2 separate regions of the Homo sapiens genome follow, and region 2 is linked to region 1. The links come from fine-mapping of genetic effects on gene expression. Tissue or cell type: whole blood. Region 1 holds a variant in brackets; the other region holds the start of a gene. All regions are shown on one strand. Distances are between the middles of the regions.

What was found. PIP is the estimated chance that this variant, and not a neighbour inherited with it, causes the effect.
Region 2: it holds the start of PKIB, and the variant in region 1 is fine-mapped to the expression of PKIB in whole blood (INTERVAL, PIP 0.98).

What each region holds. Positions count from the first base shown.
Region 1 is chr6:122,703,674-122,712,124 of GRCh38, reverse strand. All of the region lies in intron 3 of PKIB (cAMP-dependent protein kinase inhibitor beta), which reads right to left. Among named protein-coding and RNA genes, the nearest start is that of FABP7, 72 kb to the left of the region's middle. RefSeq lists a silencer at 7,934-8,134. The variant A/C (reference allele first, on the strand shown) is at 3,601.
Region 2 is chr6:122,605,899-122,614,349 of GRCh38, reverse strand. PKIB (cAMP-dependent protein kinase inhibitor beta) reads right to left here and starts at 3,945. Exons shown (of 5, transcript NM_181795.3): 1 at 3,815-3,945. RefSeq lists an enhancer at 2,653-3,298 and a silencer at 3,915-4,094.

The DNA of each region.
Region 1 (8,451 bases):
ACATATCTCCTATTCACTTAAGTATCAAGATCATTTTAAGCTAAACAGAACTTACATGAAATGTAGACCTGCGTAATTTTTTTCAACTTAGAAACTTTCCTGTCTTTGAAATTTTTCAAAAGATGGTATTTCTCTGTCTCTAGTGTAAGTCAAAGGGAACCCTACCTTTGGTTTGTTGACACGCACATTTTTTAATGTTTATGTTCTTGCTTGCTAATTGCATAGACAGATCCTTCAATATACATTGGTAGGCACATGGAAGTTATTTTTACCACAGAGAATTTTTGACAGCTTAAACATATAAAATTCAAAATGCAAAGTCAAATTAATTTTTTCATAATTTTCCAGATAAATTAATGCACAAAGCTGAATACCCTTCCAGCACAATGTTACTTCTTATACTAACATAAGGCCACTTACAATACTAATATACATGAATGTTGTTAATGATAAAAAAGATGGACTGCAATAAACTATGTAGCCTCCTTGAGTATGTGTCTGTGTTTGGGGGAGTCAGATTTAACTGGTCATCTTATTCTTTTTAGTTTCATACTAGAAAGACTTATTCAACATGTATCCTCCATAAAGGTTTGCAGGGAGTTAGTTGGGCTTCTCCCAACCACTTGCAGATTCCCAAAAGGACTAATAAATTTCTCACATGATTGCAGGATATTACATTTGAAAAGATGATATAGTCCAGACTTCCAGATCCAGACACTTAAGTGATGCATCAATATAACATAGCTTAATTTGTGTCAAAGTCTTTCCTAAGTTTAGGCGGTACTCTTTCTTCCATTACCATGATTCCTCCTGCTGCTTTCCGTAACAAAAAACAAAAACAAACCCAGCTATCTACAGGGATAAAAATAAAAAAGAAAATTCACTGTATATGAAAAAGTCTTTCTAAAAATTAAACAGGTTTCCTTTTTAATACATTAGCTTGAGTGGGGTGTGTGTGTCCCTGTGTGGTGTGTGTGTTTGTGTGTGTGTGCTATGTATATTGGGTGTTATCCAGAATACAGTGATATTTTCACTTCTCCTTTAGATGAATATAAGTGGTTATAACCATAGCAAAGCATCCCTACTGTCTACATTTTATATAGTTTAGCTTTTATTTCTAGCTTCAGAGTATTCAGAATTGAGAGGATTTAGCACGGATTTGAAGAAACCCTTCTCATTCTTTTTTTCCCACCTTACCTCAAACCCTATTTATACTCCTTCACTTTCATTTGTTTCACATTATTCTTTCTAACCAGTGACTCAAATATTGTTGGTTCTTATTTTATTGAGGTACTGGAGCCTGCTTAAAGAAGTTAGGGTTCAATTCAAAAAGCATTTATGTAACACCAACTCTGCAAAGCCCCACGCTAGATACTGTGGAATTTGGCACAGTAAGTAAGGTCTTCCCATGCCTTAACTGGCAGTCTGTGAAGGCTGCGTGCTAGCACCTTTACCACGTGAGCAGTGGAGGCAGCGCTTAATTCCAGGATAGAAAATGAGGCCAGGCTTCACAGGGAACACAGCATTTAATGGAACCCCAGAAAATAAGTAAGCAAATTTCAGAGAAGGGCTGCCCTCAGACCACCCATTTCTCATTTAGTTGCTTTTCCAACTACTATTGTACACAAAGTATTCTTAGATTTCAAAGGGGGCACAAATACACTCCAAGTACACAAAATCCCCAGCACTGAATTTGCCCTAGTGGGAAAATAATGTGATTTTGAAGTTCTTGTGTACAATGTGATTTTGAAGTTCTTGTGGTCTGCTTGTACTCTTCCCTACAAAGAGGGAACACGGCCGTCTGTGTTGGGGGTTTACATGCAAGGCCTAAAAAGTCAGTTCCCTTTTCAATGAGATATATGGTTTTAAAATGTCAAATGGCGGTTTATGACATCAGTAGGAAGAAGAGAAGGGGAAGTTAATTCTTACCAATGTGGTCACAATAGAAATGGCTTCATATCCCTCTGCCTAGTAGAGAGACTGGAACATATCTGCTTAATACAATCAATAAATCAATGTTGAATTAATAGCTGATACCTATCGATTATGAGCTGAAAATGAAGGTCCTTTACATTATTAATATTCATAATAAAGATCAAAAGTAAATAAATAATAAGACTGAAAGTTCAGTTATTCAGTATTAAAATAGATTTTGTTTTGTTAACATCAAAATAGATAGGAGTCAGGCTGTAGACTAATGGCAAATACAATGGTTTTTAGATGTGGGTAGTAAACCTGGATTGGTAGAGCCAGAGCAGTAGTTGCTGCAAAAACTCATACAGTACGACCCTCATCTAGGACATCTGATGGTTATACACATGGACACTTTAAATTTTAAACTTTCATTTCAGAAAGCATTTATAATTAATATATACTTATTTATCTTTCAAAGGGAAAATGCAGTGTGATACCAAATAATAGAACTATTTTTACTAACACACCAAAATTTATAGATGGAAATGAGTATCATCTATCAAAGCAATTACTTTAAGTAGCCACATATTTATTCCACTTCTGAAACTGTTTTTGTGACTCCATCATTGCAACTCATTTTATACTCATACATCAAATAGTGGTAACATGTTCTATTTAAAATATAACGTATTTTATAGTAAACTGTTTTTAATTAAAAAAAAAAACTCCCACTTGATCCCATCTCTTTGTACTAAGAATGACTTCAGCTACTTTTCAAAACCTCCTTAGGTAATTTAGATTTGCACATATTCAAAATAAAACTATTTTAAATGATGATTTGAAAGCAGAGCTTTGGGCACTACTTAACTGCATTAACACACTCTCAAAGTGACTGCCCTTAGTCCTCTTGTTTGTTACACGGTCTATATGGAGCAATGGGAAGTTTGGTCGCCTAAAAGTGAACACTTCTGAAGTTGAATCCTGGACTTTCAACTTCTAGAAAGACATCTAACTTCTTTGTTGATTAGCATTCTACATTTTTAAAAAGTAGGATTTATATTATCTATTTTACTACCCTGGACTCAAATGAACTAATGTTATAAATGTGCTTGGTTAACAACTACACAAATGGAATTTATTTAGATATCAGTCATATAAATTTATAGGCACTATGACAGAGTATCATTATGAATATCAATTATTCTTTTAAGCAACAGTGTTGACGTGGCTCTAGAGACAGCCTCTGATGTTGGACTGTAGGCAGAAAGAGATTAACGCAGCTGGGCGTGATGGCTCATGCCTGTAATCTCAGGGTTTTGGGAGGCTGAGGCAGGCAGATCACCTGAGGTCAGGAGTTTGAGACCAGCCTGGCCAATATCTACTGGCCAGTATCTACTAAAAATACAAAAATTAGCCAGGCGTGGTGACGCATGCCTGTAATCCCAGTTACTCAGGAGGCTGAGGCAGTAGAATCACTTGAACCCGGGAGGAGGAGGTTGCAGTGACCTGAGATCACGCTACTACACTCCAGCCTGGGCAACAGAGCAAGACTCCATGTCAAGAAAAAGAGATTAACTCTGAGACATTTCCAGAAAGTTGATATTGTTTAAAAAGGCATTCAAAAAATCATTTACAATCTGCTTCCCAGCACACCCTCAAACCTGTCTACGTTTCTGCAACATCTGA[A/C]CCATACAAGTCACCAGTCACAGAAAACCATATCTCCCCTACACTGCCCATAGGAAGATTTCTCCCTAAAGGTGAAATTTTCACATACTTTCAGAAACAAACCATGTTTCAGTGTTCTCTCCAATGGTTAAAATGGGATTGAAATTCTTGATTTCTTCATGATGCCTAAAAAAGCATTCTTAATCTGAGTAATATTAAAATGAGATAATATGGCATAGGAAAAAGGGTCACAAAAGATAATATTGACAGAGTCCTGCTTTCTCAGTGGGGCTTGCTTTAACCACCTTGTTTAAAATTGCATCTCATCCCTCCAGCTTCTAATTCCTCTTACTTTCTCTTAGCACTTACTAGCTTTGAAAATGTATTCGCATTTACTTATGATTGCAGTTGTTGCTTATTGTCTGTCTCCCTTCACTAGAAGGTAAGCTCCACAAAGCAGAGCTTTTGTTTTTGTAGGTTGTTTCATTGATGTATTCATAGGACCAAAAGCCATGCCTGATTCTTATTCAGCAAGCACTCAATAAATAAAATAATTGTCTTTCCACTTTTCAACATGAATTTTTTTTCTTTTTGCATATGACATTAATATATGCTTGTTGTTGGGAAAAGGACAATTCCAAAAGACATAAAGAAGGAAAAAGAGATTGCCATCCCGCTATCCAGTAACAGTGCTGTTGTAATTCTGGTGCATAACCTGCCAGAATTTTTTCAGCGGCACATATACAAGAATATCACAACATATTTTACACACCATTTAGTTTGAAGCTAGATGATATTTATTTGATATCATTTTATTATATCTTAAAAATGCAATCTTTCTCAAATCAACATAATTCAAAATTTCTAATGACAGTTTTGAAAAAATAAAATTTTCTTGAATGTTAACATTAGAGAGCATATACCAACTATGTAAAATATGCATAGCCAAAAAGCAAGGAACATGGCTGAGTACTGAAATTACTTATAAATGTTTCTTTAATCGGATAAATAAAATGGGTATAAAATAGATAGGTATAATGCTTTTTTAAATGCACCCACAGTTTCGGTAGTGTCTTTTTCTTCTATTTCATCAATTTAAAGAAAAACTCTTAGGATGTCTCTTAGCCCATATTTAAATGAATATAATATTCATTTTTTTCTTCCAACAAAGAAAAGGAGAGAAATGATTAAGCCTTTTTGAGCTCTGATTTGTTTTCTAAGTTATCTTCGGTACTTTACAGAAGAAATCATTATAACGTTGCAGCAAGCAAAAAATTCAATCAAAATTATGGGAACAAAAATTAAGAGTAGTTTTGAGAATTTTTCTGGGTCATAGAGGAAAAAAAATCCCAACCAAAGGGCAAACAACTTTAGAAAGAAAAATCATCTAATTGAAATATTTTTTCATCAAATTATGCATGTTTATATTAACCTGCAATTAAGTTAATAGAAGTAGCATTATTTAAATTGATACATTTAACTTTTATAAAAACATTTTGTACAAAATTATGTTACTATAGTCCTTTAGTACTATATAAGTTAAATAGAAAAATGAGGCCATGAAAATATCTAAAATATTTAAAAACATAAATTTTCAAAATTTTAAAACCACTATGCATATATTAGTTTTAAAATACATTCACAGAAAAACATTTTAAGGGAAATATACTGAAATTATAATAGTTATTCCCTTTGTGTATGTTATTATTAATGATTTCTATTTTCTTCGTTGAATTTTACTTTTTTCCAAATTTTCTATAATGAAGATTTTTATGATATGAAAAATGGCATATGCATGTGTTAAGCATGCATTGTTTTAAAGCACTTTATTGAGAATTTGTTCATGTGATTCTACACTGTGGATTAGTCACTACTGTCTTCATTTTAAGGGTGAGGAAACTGACGATCATAGAAATAAAAGGGTTTGGCTAAACCTAGCTAGCAAGTAACAGAGACAAGACTGGAACCCATTTCATCTCACAACTCATTATTTTCTCCTTAAATTACACCTCAGCAAACATTTATTGAGCACAGACTCAGTCCTCATTCAATCAATTATTGTTAAGCATCTACTATATCTTCCGTTCAGTGCAAGACTCTGGGGAAACAGTGGCAAATAAGACTAAGCATTGTGATAGAAACAGTGGGGACACATGAAGATGCTTAATATATGGTCCCCACCCTGAAAGAGTTGTGAACTCATCGTACAGATGGAATATGTTGCATATTAAAGGAAATGTAAAAATAGAAGTAAATATATGATATATTCAAATAAGTGTTATAAATAAAACTACTATAGAAATGTAAAAGATAAATGGTTACTGAATTTTGGGGTGATTAAGGAATATTTCACAAAGGCTGTAGAACACACACAGAGCCTCAAAATTTGGGAGGAATCCACACAGGTAGAAAGGGAATGAAAGGCTTACTAAGCCAGAGAAATATCTGTAAGCTAAAAGAGGGGAGTGCAAAAAGCAAGTTCTAAATAAGAGAAAAGGAAACATTTCGCTGCCATGGAGTGTTATGCCCACGTGGAGTTGGAAAAATGAGTTGGAGCATAGTCATAACATAGTGGGAAAGAAAATGAATGCCATGAACAATATGTGAACGTATCCTGTAAGCACCAGGGAATCATGAAACTTCTAAATCACATAGTAAAGGTGTGTATGAGATGCATTTTCTGGCCAGGCGCAGTGGCTCATGCCGTAATCCCAGCACTTTGGGAGGCCAAGGCAGGCAGATTACAAGGTCAGGAGATCGAGACCATCCTGGCCAACATGGTGAAACCCCATGTCTACTAAAAATACAAAAAATTAGCTGGGCGTGGTGGCATGTGCCTGTAATCCCAGCTACTTAGGAGGCCAAGGCAGGAGAATCACTTGAACCAGGGAGCTGGAGGTTGCAGTGAGTCGAAATTGCGCCACTACACTCCAGTGTAGCCACAGAGCAAGACTCCGTCTCAAAAAAAAAAAAAAAAAAAAGATGCGCTTTCTGAAAATAGAGACAGATGTCAAGGAGAACCATTAAAGCATATTAAAAGGTGAAGTTTTTAAATCAAATCTACCACAATAGAGTAATAAGCTGATTCCAAAAATTTATATGAAAATGCTACAGACTGAGAATAACTTCTTATTCCAAAAAGAAAGGAAAAAGTAAAGGACTTACACTATCAGACTTGATGGCTATTAATTCTGTGTGGTATTCCTCAAGGGTAGACAAATAGAATACAAAATAAAATAGACACTCTAGAAATAGACAAATACACTCTTATTGTCCATTGATTTCTGAAAAAGGCTTTGATTATCAATGTGGTCATTGAACCATGATGATCTTGGAGGACTCACAAAGGCACCACAAAATTAGATATTGGTGGAGAAATTTTTGATCATGGAAACAATAGATCTTGTTTATAATAATTTGTGACAAAAATTCTAAGGATTATTAAATAGATGGCTTTCAGCTATAGTGTTTTTCTGGTATATTTTATTTTTAGACAAGGTCTCCCTCTGTTTCCCAGACTGGAGTGCAGTGACATGATCACAACTCACTGCAGCCTCAATTGTTTGAGCTAAAAGCAATGTCCTGTCTGCCTCCCGAATAGTTAGAGCTACAGGTGGGCAGCATCACACTTGCCTAATTTTAAAACTTTTTGTAGAGTTGAAGGATGGTCTTAAACTTCTGGCCTCAAGTGATCCTCCCTCCTTGGCCTCCAAAAGTACTGGGGTTTCAAGAAGGAGCCTCCACCTGATTCAATGATCAACACTTTGCTATATTTAATCTCTCTAAACATAAACACACACACACACACACACACACAGTTATTATTTCACCAACTGAAAGCAAGCTGCCATTAACATGACACTGCATATCTAAATACCTTAGCATATATCTAAGTATTTAAGAATTGGTCTTCTGTGTATATCCATCATACCGTTATATTTCCACAATGTTATTTTTTTCATGTTCCAATTCCTGAGATAATTCACCTTTTCTCCTGGAGTTTAGCCTTTGAAATTCTTTTGGGAACTATAGTTTTTTGATGACTGAAAAGATCTATTTTTATCTTCATTCTTACAAATACACTATTTTAGGATGAAAGCACCTAACAATATTATTCCACATTATTCTATTTTTGCTGTTAAGAAGTTTGCTAATTGTGATGGCTAATTTTATATGCCAACTTGACTGGGCTACAAAGTGCTCAGATACTTGGTTAACCATTTCTCGGGGTGTGTCTGTGAGGGTGTTTCCAGAAAAGATTAACATCTGAATCAGTGGACTGCATAAAACACATTGCCCTTCTCAATATGGGCGGGCCACATCCCATGCATTGAAGTCCTGAATGGAATAAAAAGATAGAGAGAAGGAGAATTTCTTTCTCTGCCTGTCTTCAAGCTGTCTTCAGTCTTCAATCTTTTGCCTTAAACTCAGACTTGGCCTGGAACCGACAATAGTGGGTCTCCCGGTTATCAGACTTGAACACAAACTGGAACCATATCATTAGCTCTCCTGAGTCTCTAGCTTGCCAAAGCCTTAGGACTTCTCAGCCTTCATAATTGCATGAACCAATTTCTCTCTCTCTCTCTCTCTCTCTCTCTCTCTCTATATATATATATATATATACACACATATATATATAGCGTTTTTTATATAGAGAGCGAGCATTTTTGCCGTTCTTACGTAGAGCTTTTACATATATATACATATATATGTGTGTATATATAGCTTTTACATATATACATATATACATATATGTATATATATGTGTGTGTATGTATATATGTAAAAGCTCTACATAAGAATGGCAAAAACGCTCTACATAAGAACGGCACCTGCATCATAAGTGTATTAGATTCTTCAGAGAATTGCATC
Region 2 (8,451 bases), 98 kb after region 1:
TAAAACTATCTTGGCTACAGACCACATTGTCTTAAAGAATCTCCATTTCCTTGGCCCTCTTTCCAATCTGAGAAATCCTACTTCTAACAGATCCAGGATTCTAGGTGAGAATACCTCTTCCCGTTCAGGAAATTATGCAAATCTAGATTGTTTTATTTTTATCTAAACATCTCTGAACTCTCTTCTCCAACCAAGCACCCAACTCTTGGGCAATGTCACATTTTTACAACTAGGAGTGACTGAAGAACACAAATCCACTCTGCTCTGGGCACATAATACTGCTATTTGCCACTTGCTAGAATAAAAAGTGTACCTCAGTTCAGTAAAAAGTAGCATATCCATTTGATTTCTCAAAATCAACTGTAATTCTTTTTTTTTTTTTTTTTTTTTGATGGAGTCTCACTCTGTCACCAGGCTGGAGTGCAGTGGTGCCATCTCAGCTCACTGCAACCTCTGCCTCCTGGGTTCAAGCGATACTCCTACCTCGGCCTCCCAAATAGCTGGGACTACAGGTGTGCACCACCACACCCAGCTAATTTTTGTATTTTTAGAGAGACGGGGTTTCACCATGTTGGCTAGGATGGTCTCTACCTCTTGACCTTGTGATCCGCCCACCTCAGCCTCCCAAAGTGCTGGGATTACAGGCATGAGCCACCACGCAGGGCCAAAACCAGTTGTACTTCTAATAAAAATAAAAAATAGTAGCTGTCTTTGATTTTATGGGGATGTTCAAGTGCTTAACCTAGATTATTTCCATGTAATGTCACTACCTGGTAATGACTTTTTTAAAGTACATATAACATATGAAAATGTCTGAAACTAACAGGATTTAGAGGAACATGTACTAATGGGGGAAGTTTTAAAACAGGAAAACCAGAGCCCTGGTCTAATATGTGATTTTTGTATATGGAAATCACTTACTCTTGGGCCTTAGATCCCTAAATCTACTAATAGAATATGCTTAATTATTATTTAAAATAATTATATGGAATCATGATTAACAATGCTTATCACAAGACATATAGTTCACAAGACGTATAGTTTATTTTTGATGTTGAGGAAAGAATAATTTTGTTTTTTCTAACTCAATTAAAATTTTGCATTGAAGAAATGGAAAACCACCGAATTTATTGTCCAGCCATTCAGAGCTGGCTAAGTCTCAACACTTAAAATACAATTTTCAAACTGCATGCTTTCTCATTTTCAATTGACATTAATGAAAATTTAGTCTTGATTAAGCCTGATTCATGCTCATTTAGCATTAAAAAACATTAGGCAAGAAATATCTCGTTTCTGAGAAATATTGCGACATTTTTTTCAAAAGTGTTTGCTGTACCTCAGCTCTAAATTTGAAGAGAAGCAATGGTTCCTCTCCCAAGCCTCTCTCTATATACATATAACATCATATATGATCCAGTAAGAAACATTTATTTTTCCAGAATTTTTTAAATTTTTATATATATAACTTCTACAAAAATTACTCTATAGTGTTCCTTAAAAGTTAGACACAAGTTTGTCATACAACCTACCAATTTCACTGTTAAGCATCTACCCAAGAGAAATGAAAACGGGTACTCACAAACACTTGAATGCAAATGTTCTCAGCAGCATGATTCATAATATTCCCATATTGGAAACAACCCAAATATCCATCCACTAGTAAATTGACAAAATGTGGTATATCCATACAATGGAAAACTATTCAGCAATAAGAAGAAATGAAATACTGATACATGCCACAACATAGCTGAACCCCAAAAACATTATGCTAAGTAAGAGAAGCCATAAGCAAAAGACCATATAGTATATCATTCCATTTATATAAAATGTTCAGAAAAGGCAAATCTATAGACTGAAAGTAGATTAATGGTTGCCTGGGAATGGGAGTGGGAACAAAGACATAATGGACATAAGGAATCTTACCAAGTGAGTAAACTGTTCTAAAACCAGATATGGTAATGGTTTTACAATTTTGGAATGTTCTAAAACCAGATATGGTAATGGTTTTACAACTTTTAGAAAATTAACAAATTTTCTAAAACTCACTGAAATATAATTTTTAAATATTATTCACCCTTAAAGGGTGAACTTTATAATATATAAATTATATCTCAATAAAGTTGTAAAAAAATGCTGTAATGCAAACTGCGTAAGAATTTAAATAATTGTAAGAACTGTGAGGAAAATTAAATTGATCTATCATTGATCTAAACAATATGTTTGCAATCGACTAAAAAGGAGGAAAAACTCTTTAACAAAAATGAAATTTGACACATTTTAAAATATTCTGCATAATGTGGTCCATTAGTCTTTGATATTTTATTGAAGAAAGTTGTGGTAAAGATAAGATTGAGAAGTCCATTACTAAAAACGTTTTCCAAAAGATTTCCTTTCCAAAGCTATACTTTCCTTCAAAATCGAATCTTTTGAACTTCCAAAACACCTTTTTAGCAAATGATCTCTTGAGATAGTGTCACTAGGGGGGCATTGACCAGCACCCGGCACACTAACAGGAAACAAGGTTTATAAACTGCTGATTTAACCAAACTTGATCCATAACCTACCCCATTTTCCGTGAGCATTATGGTCATCAGTTCTCATTTTAATAATCCAAATGCTGAGCTTTCTAAATATAAAATCCCAGGAGGATTTTTTTTGAATGTGTGGCAATGTCAGTAAGAAGGAAGGCATCTTGTGAAGAGATAAAGTGGACAGATGAATTTTGAAATCTATCTGTACACGAAGAGAAATGCAATACTCGCAATATTTCTAATTCAATACCTTTCAGTATGCAAACCACTGATAAAAGAGTTTTTTTAAAATTTTTTTTCTAGATGAACGTTTAAGTGGTCATTCGCCTCAAATCTCCACTTTCCAGTCCTGCACAGACTCCAGCTAATAACACTACCACCTGCAGGGTGTTTTGTTGTTTGTTTGTTGTTTGTTTTAGTGCTTCCCACATGCCTAGTTCACGCATGCACTTTTCTAAAGGACCCGAGTTCCGTTGGCTGCGTTCCCCGGGGAGCTCTACGAAGACCGGTCTGACCTGGCCCTCTCAGCTCCCTTGGAAGGGACCTGCTGCAAGGCAGGGTCATTTGGCTCCGAAATGCACCTTCAGGAATTTCCCCAAGGGGCTAGCATCAGCACCAACCGGAACACAGGCCCTCCGCTCCCTCAGCCCGCGACCACCTGGCACTCGTGTCCCTCCCTGCGGCCTGCCGGGGTCCTAGGAGCAGGGAAAATCCAATAGCTACGGGCGACCCTTGAGTTTACTCGGTCTACCCACCTCCATATTTTATCCAAAGAATGGACGGAGGCCAGTGAGGTGAGGTGACTTGGCTAAAGCCACACAGCCGGACGCTGGCCGAGCGGGTTAGTACTCGGGTCTCTGCTAACCCCGCGGCCGCTCGTGACTACCCGGGGCTTGGTAAGCACCGCCCAGGGGAAAGACTTGGCATTGCTGGCGCGAGAGCCGAAGGACTCAGCGACTTGTGACAGGAGGTCATCAATGGCCACCTGCAGGGCAGAGTGGGCAAAAGGCAGGTGACAGACCTCCCACGTCACGCCTGTTGGCGTGAGCGTCCTTTTCACTCTCTAAGTACCCTGACTTGTGAGTTAAACGATGGATCGGGTCGCCCAAGCGAAAGAGGCATCTGCTTCGAACTCCCCCCATATTTGTGCCAGCAGGGCAGAAAATAGGAAAGTTGCACTTACCACATCTTCCCTGGGTCAGTCTCCCCCGACTTCCCAAGTCCCACTCCTCCCTCCTCGCATAGGGACACCCACTCACGCGCCCGCTCCACCAGGTACGTACCAGCCGCGCGCAGCTGCCTGCCCTGCCGGTGCCCTGGCGCTCGCGCTCGCCCAGCGCTCTGCGGCCCGGAGCTGCGACTCGGGCTCTAGCTCGCTGCCGCCTCTACAGTCCACCGGGATGCGGCCGCGTCTGAGCTACTGGGCTGGGGCGCAGCCAGGCGGTGGCAGCTACTCGGGGGCGGAGGGAGCGGCCGCCGCGTCCCGCCCCCAGGCTACGAGCGCGGCTCCCCAGGCGGTGTCCCGCTCTCCGTGCAAACCGGGCCACCGCATCACTCCCCGGGGCACGTGCCACGGTAGCTTTTTTCTGCTGGCAGCCTGGGGCGAGCTCTTTTATCCTACTTGTGCGTTAACCACCAACTAATTATCGGTGATCGTCACACAACCCGCGTCCTCCCCGCCCGCCACTCCCAGTTCCCTTGGGCGATGATGAGGTTCTGCTAAGATTTCTGTGACGTGACTGCGGGAATTTCAATTCCCTTCCTGCTTTCCGACGTCGCATCGTGTTTTCTGTCCCTCCGGTTGTACGCGCCCTGAGCAGGGTTTGTGCTCCAGGTGTCATTAAGGTTGCCCTTTGATCTAATGTTGGCTGTTTGGAGAAGGTAGGAAGGTACACAGGCTTATCTACGCCCCGAATCTGGGTCTTCGAGTTTGTTAACAGATTATTTTAACAGATTAGGAAGCAATATGCAATGGAAACAACTTTTTGTGCAATAAAAGCAGAAAATAATGTATATCAAGTTTCACTTTCAGGTTCTCACTAAGAAAAATAAAGTCGTTACTACTAAGGTCTCACTGTGCTTTTTAAAAGCCATATTACATGGACGACGATACTGCTGATAAAATTAATTTATCTGCTTCCTGAGAAAGTGGTTTCTCACTGAAGTCTTAAAATCTCCTCTGGTCTCCTGAAACTCTTAATTAGTACTCAAAGTCTTCTCTTATCTCTAGTCTTTACTAATTTGCTCATTCATACTATGCTCTGACTTGCCACCCAAAGCCTATGACACCTGCCAATGACCACTTCCAAATTCCCTTTTTAGGCAAAAGCCTAAATATGGAAATACGAAAATATAATCAGACTAATATTTTATTCAGTGTGTGCTAATGGTAGTACAATCAAGTTCTTTAAATTATTCAATATTCATACCTCCACAATATAGTAATAATTTTCTCTATTTTCAGATAGTAAACTGAGGTTCAGCAAGGTTAGATACTTTGAACAAGGCTAAATAGCTGAGAAGATTCCAAATCAGTTTTGAACTTAGGTCTTTCTGCCTTCAGGATTGATTGACTTCCTTAAATTATACTCTGCTAATAAAGCTGTGATTTTTCTGAATTGTGATGTAGGCACATTTTGTTTTGTATTAGGTTAGTGCAAAAGTAATTGCAAAAAAGTACTGGCAAAAACTGCAGTAGCTTCTGCACCCGCCTAATAAAAATATAGTTACTTGTGTGGTTACACAAGCATTAATCAAAGAGACTGAGAGTTATTTATATCATTAGTGTAACTTTAAAACTTATTATCTGGCATACTGCTAAGGCCTGTTATTATTATATTATATAATAACATATATTTTTATTATCTAGGGCAAATTATTCTAAGGTTTATTTATTTTAGAGGTACTATGACAGAGAGTGATACTAAAATGTTTGAACTTATGAATTATGGTATCATGATTGGATTTTTATGATCCTGCAAGTGTATTTCCTATACTTGAAAATTTTGCTTTGTAAAATCTGTATTTTGGGATCAATGTGAGAAAACCACTAGACCTCACTGCTAAGCTTTTAACCTACATATGAAATCATCAGAACCACTGGAATGTATGGCCCATGAAGGCCATATCCTCAACACCTAGAATAGTACCTTCACAAAGTAGGTACTCTACAGGCCGTTTTGAAATGAATAAGTATTAACTTTGTTTCCACACTTAAGACCAAATAATGACTTATAAGAACACTATTTATAGAATGCTTTTGTCTATTTAGATTTAAGATTTTTGATGGCCTCTCATTTCTACTAGGAAAGTAAGGAGAAGATGCGGAAAGGTTTGCAGTAGCTGCTTTTGCAAATGTTAGACACGACCTGACCATAAGTGCAAGGAGGAGTTTTTGAGTCCAAGAATTGGTGGTAGCAGTAATTCCACACAATCATGTGAATTGTGAATTTGTGTCAAATATATGCCTTTAAATGCAGAAAGTTTAATCCAACTTTGGGATTGTGCCAAGTGATGTGATGAAAAGACAAGGAGCAAGCTTGGATACTATTTTTAAGACAAGGTTTTAAGGTTAACAAGAATAAATAGGAAAATAAGTGAGGACAAAGAGGGGAGAAGAAGGAAGAGTCCAAGAACTACAAATCCACATCAAATGAGAGAGATAAGTTGTAGTCAGGAAATGGGATCGTTTTCTTTGAAGTTTTAGAAGTACAAAGATAGACAGTTTATGGAAGAGCTAAGGGTGGGGTTGGCTGACGTAGAACGAAGATCAAGACATTAGGGACTAAGGTATTGAAGAAACTATATGGACATTGAAGCCACCAACAGTAATACCAGAATGAAAAAAGGAGTGAGTTTGATAACAAACACTTCCGTGAATGTAGTGGACTGATCCAGAACTGAGAGGATGACTATGCAAAGTTGGGGCAGAAGGTGCATATCCAGGGAGGAAAAACGTAAGTGGATCAAGGACTGGTAAAAGAGACAATTAAGACTTCAGAAGTAATACTGGGGAGTTACAAGGATCCCAACACTGCCCCTGTGACCCTAGAATGTGAAACAATGAACAGTCTATATCAAAGGGACATCTAGGGGAAATAATTCTTAGAAGAAAGCTTATTTCCACTTAAGGCCAGAAAATGGAGAAAGCATTGTGTAAATAGTTTATGAGGTTGGTGGTATTTTTCAATATTAAATGAGGATTCTCCAAGGTCAGAGTAGTTAAGAGGTGGGAGGTAGGGCTGGCTTCGTGGGTCTATGACCTGTTCAGTTGAGCAGGGATCTACGTGTTGTTTGTTTTTGAGACAGAGTCTGACTCTCTCACCCAGGCTGGAGTGCAGTGGCCCAATCTCGGCTCACTCCAGACTTGGCCCCCCAGGCTCAAGCAATCTTCCCACCTTAGCCTCCAGAGTAGCTGAGACTACGGGCACACATCACCACACCTGGCTAACTTTTGTGGGTTTTTTTGTTTTGTTTTTTTGTTTTGTTTTGTTTTGTTTTGTTTTTTTGTAGAGACGGGGTTTTGCTATGTTGGCCAGGCTGGCCTCGAACTCCTGGGCTCAAGCGATCCACCCGTCTTGGCCTTCCACAGTGTTTGGATTTCAGGCATAAGCCACATGCCTTGCTCAGGATCTACTTTTAAGAAGGCCCTGTGCAATGTTTAATGCTCCCCTGTCCCTGCATTGAAATATTTTATTTTATTTTATTTTATTTATTTATTTATTATTATTATTTTTTTTTTTACCAAGGGGACTTGCATTTTCATCTTTCATTGAGCCCAGCAAATTATATAACCAATGCTGTGTGGAAGAAAGTAGAAATTCTTGCATGGGTGAAGCAAGAATCAGTATTTACCTTCTAGGGATTAAAGTTTGGGAAAGACTAAATGCAGAAGTTTGTATTTTGAGGGAAGACCAAGAGATGCAGGGAGAAGGATGTGGCTGCAAGGTTTCAAGTGAGATCTAGTTTTCACATCTCTTTAGGGCCAGGCTGGCTGACACCTGGGCAGAAGAAGTGGACAGTAGTTACCATCATCATACTCCATGTTTTTATATGCTGGTGGGTTAGTTTTTTTAGGGTTGCCATTAAAAATTACCACAAATTTGGTGACCTACACCAGAAGGAATTTATTCTCTCACAATTCTGGAAGCCAGAAGTCTGAAGTCAAAGTGTTGGCAGGGTATCACTTCCTGTAAAGACTCAGGGGAGAACCCTCTTTTGTCTCTTCTAGCTTTTTTTTTCTTTTTTGAGACAGAGTCTCACTCTGTCACCCAGGCTGGAGTGCAATGGCGCGATCTCTGCTCACTGCAACCTCTGCCTCCTGGGTTCGAGCGATTCTCCTGCCTCAGCCTCCCAAGTAGCACGGATTACAGGCACATGCCACCACACCCTGCTAATTTTTGCATTTTTGCAGAGACGGGGTTTCACCATGTTAGCCAGGCTCGTCTTGGACTCCTGACCTCAGGTGATCCGCCTGCCTCAGCCTCCCAAAGTGCTGGGATTACAGGCGTGGGCCACCATGCCCAGCCCTCTTCTAGCTTTTAATGGCCACAGGCAATCCTTGATTGTCTTTAGCTTATAGCTACATAACTCCAATCTCTGCATCCATTTTCACATCTTCCCTATGTTTCTTCTCTACTGTTGGCATTGGTATTCCCCTCTTCTTATAAGGACATTTGTCATTGGATTTTGCATCCACCCAGTTCATCCAGGATGATCTCCCCTGGAGATCCTTACTTTAATTGCATCTTCGAAGATCCTTTTTCCAAGTAAAGTCAAATTCACAGGTACCAGAGGTTAGGTCATGGACATATCTTTTTAGAGACCACCATTCAGTCCACTGTAGCCAAGTCTATGGAGGCCAGAGGAATAGCAAGGCTGGATGACACTGGCATGATAGCTCTTCAGGTCTATTTGGCAA